Linked DNA regions of Homo sapiens. The protein of the gene in region 1 interacts with the protein of each later gene in a pairwise test. Each region holds a gene or a part of one and is shown on either strand. Other genes may lie near its edges.

The links.
Region 2: the proteins of LBR (region 1) and CALD1 interact in a two-hybrid assay, tested with the Homo sapiens proteins (one large-scale study listed by BioGRID).

The regions. Positions count from the first base shown.
Region 1 is NC_000001.11:225,421,539-225,425,038, reverse strand, and holds part of LBR (delta(14)-sterol reductase LBR), read left to right. Parts: intron 1-949; 5' UTR 950-963; coding exon 964-1,128; intron 1,129-2,761; coding exon 2,762-2,962; intron 2,963-3,500. UniProt on the Homo sapiens protein: Catalyzes the reduction of the C14-unsaturated bond of lanosterol, as part of the metabolic pathway leading to cholesterol biosynthesis.
Region 2 is NC_000007.14:134,786,134-134,789,633, reverse strand, and holds part of CALD1 (caldesmon), read right to left. Parts: intron 1-3,500. UniProt on the Homo sapiens protein: Actin- and myosin-binding protein implicated in the regulation of actomyosin interactions in smooth muscle and nonmuscle cells (could act as a bridge between myosin and actin filaments).

The DNA of each region.
Region 1 (3,500 bases):
GGAGACAGCTCATATCTGTCCTACTGGCTGCCCCTTGGACGTGGCCCCAGCTAGTTCATGTGGTACTGGGGAAGGTCGGCAGCCCTGGTTTTGTTGTGTGGAAATGTGATTCCGCTGGTCAGCCGATGGAGCGGCATTACTGTCTGGCAGCTGGAAGTACCCAGCTATCAATTGATATTTCAAAAAGGGTGGCAGACAGGCCTCACGTAAGTGGCAGTTCTTGCAGATTGCTTGTGGATTCCTAGAGTATTGTGGGGCTTGTGGGCCATGTTTTGAATCAGAGGAAAAGAATGTTATAATTGGGGGTTGATGGCTGCTGTAGGCTTGAGAGAAGTGAGCTTGGATGAAGGCAACCACCCTGGCTTAGGTGGGTGGTTGGCAGAGTTACTTGGTATGCATTTGTACTTTAGCTGTAAGAGTTGAAAGCTAAATAACCCCCAAATTTATTCATTACAGACTTGGAATTATTTTTCTTCCTATTGTTGGGTTATAGTCATGTTAATTGTACATCCTTGATTTTCCCAGTCTGGTTTATAGTTTGCTGTTTTTAATAAAGGCAATTTGTTAAAAATACAATTAAATGCATTTTTAAAGCCATTGTAAATTGATACGCAAATTTACAAATGAGAAAATGTGTTCTTTGTGAGATTGTGCCTCATTTTTTGATTAGCGAGAACTGTGATCACGGTAGGTGGGTAACATTTTACATAGTGTGAACTTATGGCGCCTATATACATTGTTATAATTAATCTTTAGTGTCACATAGATAACGCAGTGGCTAAATCATCCTCTCAAATGATTCCAAATGAGATTGAATGTAGCCTTTCTGGCCCTAAAATCCTGACCAGTCAATTCTGGAAAGTTGTATTTTAGTGATCAGCCTGTGGAAAAAGACGAATACATAAATGTGTATGTATTGACTCAAATTTTTTTCTTTAAAACTATTCAGGTTAATTATAGAAAATGCCAAGTAGGAAATTTGCCGATGGTGAAGTGGTAAGAGGTCGATGGCCTGGGAGTTCACTTTATTATGAAGTAGAAATTCTGAGCCACGACAGCACCTCCCAGCTTTACACTGTGAAGTATAAAGATGGAACAGAGCTTGAATTGAAAGAGAATGATATTAAGGTAAGAGCTCCTTTGGTTTATCAGAGTGTGTTTACAGTAAGTGGGAAATAACTCTAAGTATGGTTTCTAAGCTCAGGATAGTCAGTTCAGCTCGGTTTGAAGGCAGAGGATTGAGCTCTTGCTTTGGGTCACATACTGTTTTTGGCTCTGGGAATGTATGAATGAGGCATAGTCCTTGTTCCCAAGAAGCTCACACTTACTGGGAAAGACAGCCATTTGCATCTGTTGGTCCCCTGGGTTTACTACGTTCTGTGTCTGGAGTTTGCTGTGGGTGGTGTTGAGTGTATCAAGGGTAGAGAAGAGCCCTGGGCTTCAGGGGAGGCTTTCAGAGGCAGTGACACCTAGCCAAGTGCTGAGAACAAACAGGAAAAACAGCAGTTGATGGGGCTGTTTCTGCAGAGAGGGCAGTATGCCAAAGTCAGGGGTCTGGGGGACACAGTCAGCCAAGTGCTGGAAGGGGGTGGTAGGGGAGGGCTAAGCAGGAGCCAGGCTGGGGGGGCTTTTATATTCCATGCCCAAGGGTTTGGGCTTCATCCTGAACACCAAGGATTTAATCAGGAGAGTGACATTAATTAGATTCGAGTCTAGCCCAGGGCTTTTCAACCTGTCTGGTGAGGGCCTGGGTTTTAAGATATCTGATCCGTAGTATACAAACATTTATATAAAATGCCATAAAAATGAGTTACTAGAAAAATAAAGACATACACAATAGACGACTCACAGTTTTACTATCAGATTCGATAGATATGAGATTACTTTGTCAAAATGCTATAAACATTTCCATACACCTATTTCTCAATTTTGGTACTTGCACAGATTAGTAACGAGCATTTCTAGGACCCATGGCTGAGGATGACACTTCGAGTGCTCTAGACCAGGAATAAAGCACAGAAAGTAAATATTTTAGACTTTATGGGAGCGGCTCCAGGCAGTATGGAAGGGAGCAGACATGGCAGTGTTCCAGTACAACTTTATGGACAGTGAAATTTGAATTTTGGATAATTTTCACACTTCAGGAAATACTGTTCTTTTGATTTTGTTTGTAATCATTTAAGAATGTAAAAGCCATTCTTAGTAGGAAGGCCACACAAAAATTGGGGTGAGGGACTTGGCCTGGGGCGTAATTTGTCTACATCCCTAGAAGCAACATAAGGAGATTCGGAGTAGGTGGGGACACAGTGAAACAGTTCCCAGTCATCCAAGCTCATGTTTTATTTTCAAGATCTGCTTATGTGTTTTGTTCAGAGTGAAACTGTGGTACTGTTTTTTTTTTTTTGGTCTGTGTGCTTATTTATTTTGTCCTGTCGTCTCAGTTTTAATCCATGTTAATTATTACCCTTCTTGCATATGGTGTTGGAAATAAGTACAGCTAATTGGTTTAGATACATTCGTTTCATGGAAATACCTTCAAAGAACAGGAATGGAAAGGCTGCATTTGTCTCATGAAAGATGGATCATTATGAAAGCATTTTCCATTGGCTTCATCTGATCCATTCTCAGATCCTAACATTTCCCGTGCTGATTTTAGAGTTAATGGTAGCAGTTCCTGCCTTTGTTATCCTCTTCTAGTGTGGGTCTGTCTGTATGTGTTATGATTTGTGGTAAAGCTCTTTGCCTTCTTCCCCCTTTCTAGCCTTTAACTTCCTTTAGGCAAAGGAAAGGTGGCTCAACTTCCAGTTCCCCTTCCAGACGCCGAGGGAGTCGATCAAGGTCACGCTCCCGATCCCCTGGTCGACCACCTAAAAGTGCCCGCCGATCTGCTTCTGCTTCCCACCAGGCCGACATTAAGGAAGCAAGGAGGGAAGTGGAAGTTAAATTGACTCCGCTGATTCTGGTACTTGTGTTTATCCTTATACAGCCTTTTGTCTTCCGCTTTATGTATATATTTACTCAAGTTACTTGCAGTTAATAATATTAAAATGTCACTGAAACATCAAATCTAAGTTGATGACTTTGGGAGTTTTCATATAAAACAAATGTTTGGAATAGAAAGTTTTAAATATCAATGGAAAAGAATGTCCTTCAGTTACCAGAAATGCTATTTAATATTTTAGTTTTTAAAAAAGCAGCGTTCAAATTTGAAATAGATGTAGCTTGTAGATTGAACTGCGTAAGGTTTTTACAGTGTATAAAAGTTCATATCATGTATGAAATGGTAAGACAAACCTGTATTACGGAAACATTCTTACTCTTAGCATCATTATACTTTATCACTTTACCTATTCAAAGATGATTTTAGTGGAATTACTTTCAAGATGTAAGCTTTGAAATATCAGGGTGCATGGAGCCTGTAGATCTTGTACAAATAGTATTTTAGATAGTAGACCAAAGACAAAGTATGTTAAGTAAAAAGAATAAAAGTAATCTTCTAT
Region 2 (3,500 bases), on another chromosome or scaffold:
TCCACAGGAAATCACAGCCAATAGCTGACCATTTGTAATTGAGTGTCTATCATGTACGTGCAAAGCAGTTTCAAGATATTACTTCTAGTAGTTGTGACAACTACAAAGTGGAGGAGAAATCATCCCCATTTTGTAAGTGAAAAAAGTGGTAAATTTGAGATTCAAACTCAAGTTCTCCTGACTCCAAAGTTTGTTCTCAAATAGATCTCAATTCTTTCTAGAGCCACATACAAAAGAGGAGTCTCAGTGACGTGGAGTAACTAGCAAGAGGCAGCATAGCACAGTGGTAAAGAAGGTGGGCAGTGCCTCCAGATTATCCCGGGTTTAGATCCTGACCCAGCTACTTACTAGCTGTGGGACCTTAGCTATATTACTTAATCTAATCGTAACTCAGTTTCTTCATCTGTAAAATTAGCTGTTATGAAGATAACTTATTTTATTTTTACCTAATAAAAATCTACATGCTACTTAGCATGTGCCAGGCACTGTTCTAAACACTGAACAATGATACAATTCATGAGGAATCAATGAGCTCCAACATGAACACTGGCTTCAGGTATTTTTAAAGTAGAAATTGTAGACTTTTTTTTTTTTTTTTTTTTACTTTTTGTTTTTTTCTGAGACAGGGTCTCACTGTGTCACCCAGGGTGGAGTGCAGTGGTACAATCTCAGCTCACTGCAGCTTCGACCTCCCAAGCTCATGTGATCCTCCCACCTCAGCCTCCCAAGTAGCTGGGACTACAGATGCACACCACCATGGCCGGCTAATTTTTGTATTTTTTGTAGAGGCAGTGTTTCACCATTTTGCTCAGGCTAGTCTCAAACTCCTGCCCTTAAGCAATCTGCCTGCCTTGGCCACCCAAAGTGCTGGGACTACAGGCACGAGCTACCACTACCAGCCTGACATTTATTTCTTTCACTCATTTAACTCATTTATTAATACTATGTGCAGGACACAGCACATTTTTAGGTTCAAATCACAGCACTGAAAAAGCCAAACAAAGTCTCTACTTTCATAGAGCTTATGTTCTAGGAGCATGAGAAATAAATAAGCAAGCAAACAAACAAATATGCAATCATAAGCATACATTATGAATATGCATGTAACTGAACCACAGAGGTATTCCGCTTGGCTCTCCAATGCAGAGGCTAATTTTACCACCGCATCCCTTAGGGTCAGTGATGTGCTAGTCAATGTTTAGCAACAAGTTCTTGGGTGAGGGGAGGGGAGTCTGCTTTGTAGCATGGGCTGATTTCTGTGGTGTAATTACTTCCATCATGGTCAATTTCAAGTTCTGAATATGACATCACTGAATGAAGAATTGGGAGGAGAAGCTCAGTTGCACAGCATTTTATACAGTATTTCCACCATATAGCCACAATAGATGTAACTAACCTCAAGAGAATAGATAATAGTGAAACATAGCAAAATAATTAGGAAGAGTTTTGAGTATTTATTATCTTGGCTCTTCATATAATGTGTTTAATTGTAAGTTTATATGATTTAGTTTTTATAATGGCTGTGTTTTACAACTGGCTCTCAAAATTCTCGAAAGTTTAACAATGAGCTTTTGGGAGCCAGTATGAGTTTGGGGTGCAGAGAAAGTGGGGACAGTGTTAGAGATGAAGGAGACTGAGTCCAGATGGTGCCATTGTACAGAGGTGGATTCTAATCTAATTCCTTTTTAGCTCCTCTTCTCCAACAAGCTCTGCTTCTATGTACACACGGAAGCACCTGCCCTCTAAACCGAAGAGCATGGGTACAAATATAGTAACAATTTTGACATTCTTACTAGATCAGGTCACTCTTGCAGAGAAACTTTTGGCTCTCCAATCTTTAGTGAATATAATCCATGTACTCAGTGCTCTGAATATGGTAGATTCTTCTGTGCAATACAGAGGATGTAATTCCTAACTGCCGAATAAAGGAAGAACCTAGAGATAAATTTTCTGTCCTTCTGCAAAAGCAAATTATCCCCCATCCATGCACTCAAAGTCTCCTGTCTCTTAGGGTCCACATACTTTCAAAAGGGCCACCCAGGGAAGCATCTAAACCAGGGGCTGTGATGACTCCTGCCCTAGAGAAGATGTAGGGGTGAGGGTGGAGGTGGAGGAAGCTTCTCCCCTCTTCAGGATTTGTGCATCCTCACCACAAAGTGGAAACAGAGAAAAACATCTTCAGCTTTTCCTAGGAAGCGAAATATCTGCTCAAAACCTCCTAAGAACAGAAATACTTAAAATTTTTTTTCTCCTAGATTCACCCCTCCCCCTAAGCCTAAATTTCCCTTAGTAATGATGGCTGGAAAAGGAAGTGGGAAATACCATGAGAAATTTTATTCTTGCCACATTTCCAGTCCTTTACAAAAGCAAACACTGGAAATCTCATCAGAAAAATTTGACCTTACAGGGTTGATAACTTTGTGCTTAAACTGAAAAAAAAGCAAAACTAAAGGTTTTGCTCTTCTGGCCAAACGGATTATTTGGCATATGCAACTATAATTTTTAGAAAGAAATTATTCAAAACTAAAGAAATAGGCTTCTGAGGAATAAGTAACTACATACATCTACTATCAATTATTTTAACGATAGGTGCACAGAACTGTTTCTGAGCCAGGATGTTTTATCAGAGTCACCAGGGAACTTTTACAAACTACAGATGCCTGGACCCCCTTCTAGACCTACCGAATCAGAATCTCTAGAGGATAGGTCTCAGGGATGTGTATTTTCAAAAAGCTCTACAGTTGATTCTGATTAAGATACTGGTTAAGATGCATGGGTATATAGGCAGATTGGGCAGCATTGTATAACCTAAATTTGCTAACTGTTAAAACATGCTCTCTTACTATCAGGGGAAGTAATGTGGTATATTGAAAAGGTTAACTGCTTGGAACTTAGGAGCTGTGTGTTTTGGAACTATCTTACCACTAATTAACTGGATGACTTTGGTCAAGTCACTTGGTTTGTTATTTCATTCAACAAATATTTATTGAGATTCTGCCGTGTGCCACGCACTGGGTATATACGAATGAAAAAAAAATAGAGGTTCCTGTCCTTATATATCTGACAGACCAATAAGACAGGGCAGACATTAATCGAAGAAACCTACAAATACATACATAATTTTACTTGGTGTGGCTAGGCTTTGGAGAATAAAAAATAGATCACTGGTTCATATTTTAAAAAGAATTTCTACTTAAGATCCCAAATTTCCTGTCCCAACCTTCCCACACATAATATAATTATATGTTTTAAGTCCACTCATTAATAAAACACAAAAACACAAACTTAAAAGCTACTATGAATTCAATAACTCTTTTAAATAAATTAGCATTTTATCATTATAATGTATGTATAGAATTAGAAAAATAGTAGCACATATGATGTAAGATATATTATTTACTCAGAGTAGCTTGCCAAAAGCACTTGCTGCATATACAGATTTGTTTACCTCTTGCAATGACTTTGTGGCCTCCCAGGGATCCACCACCCAGAGGTTAAAA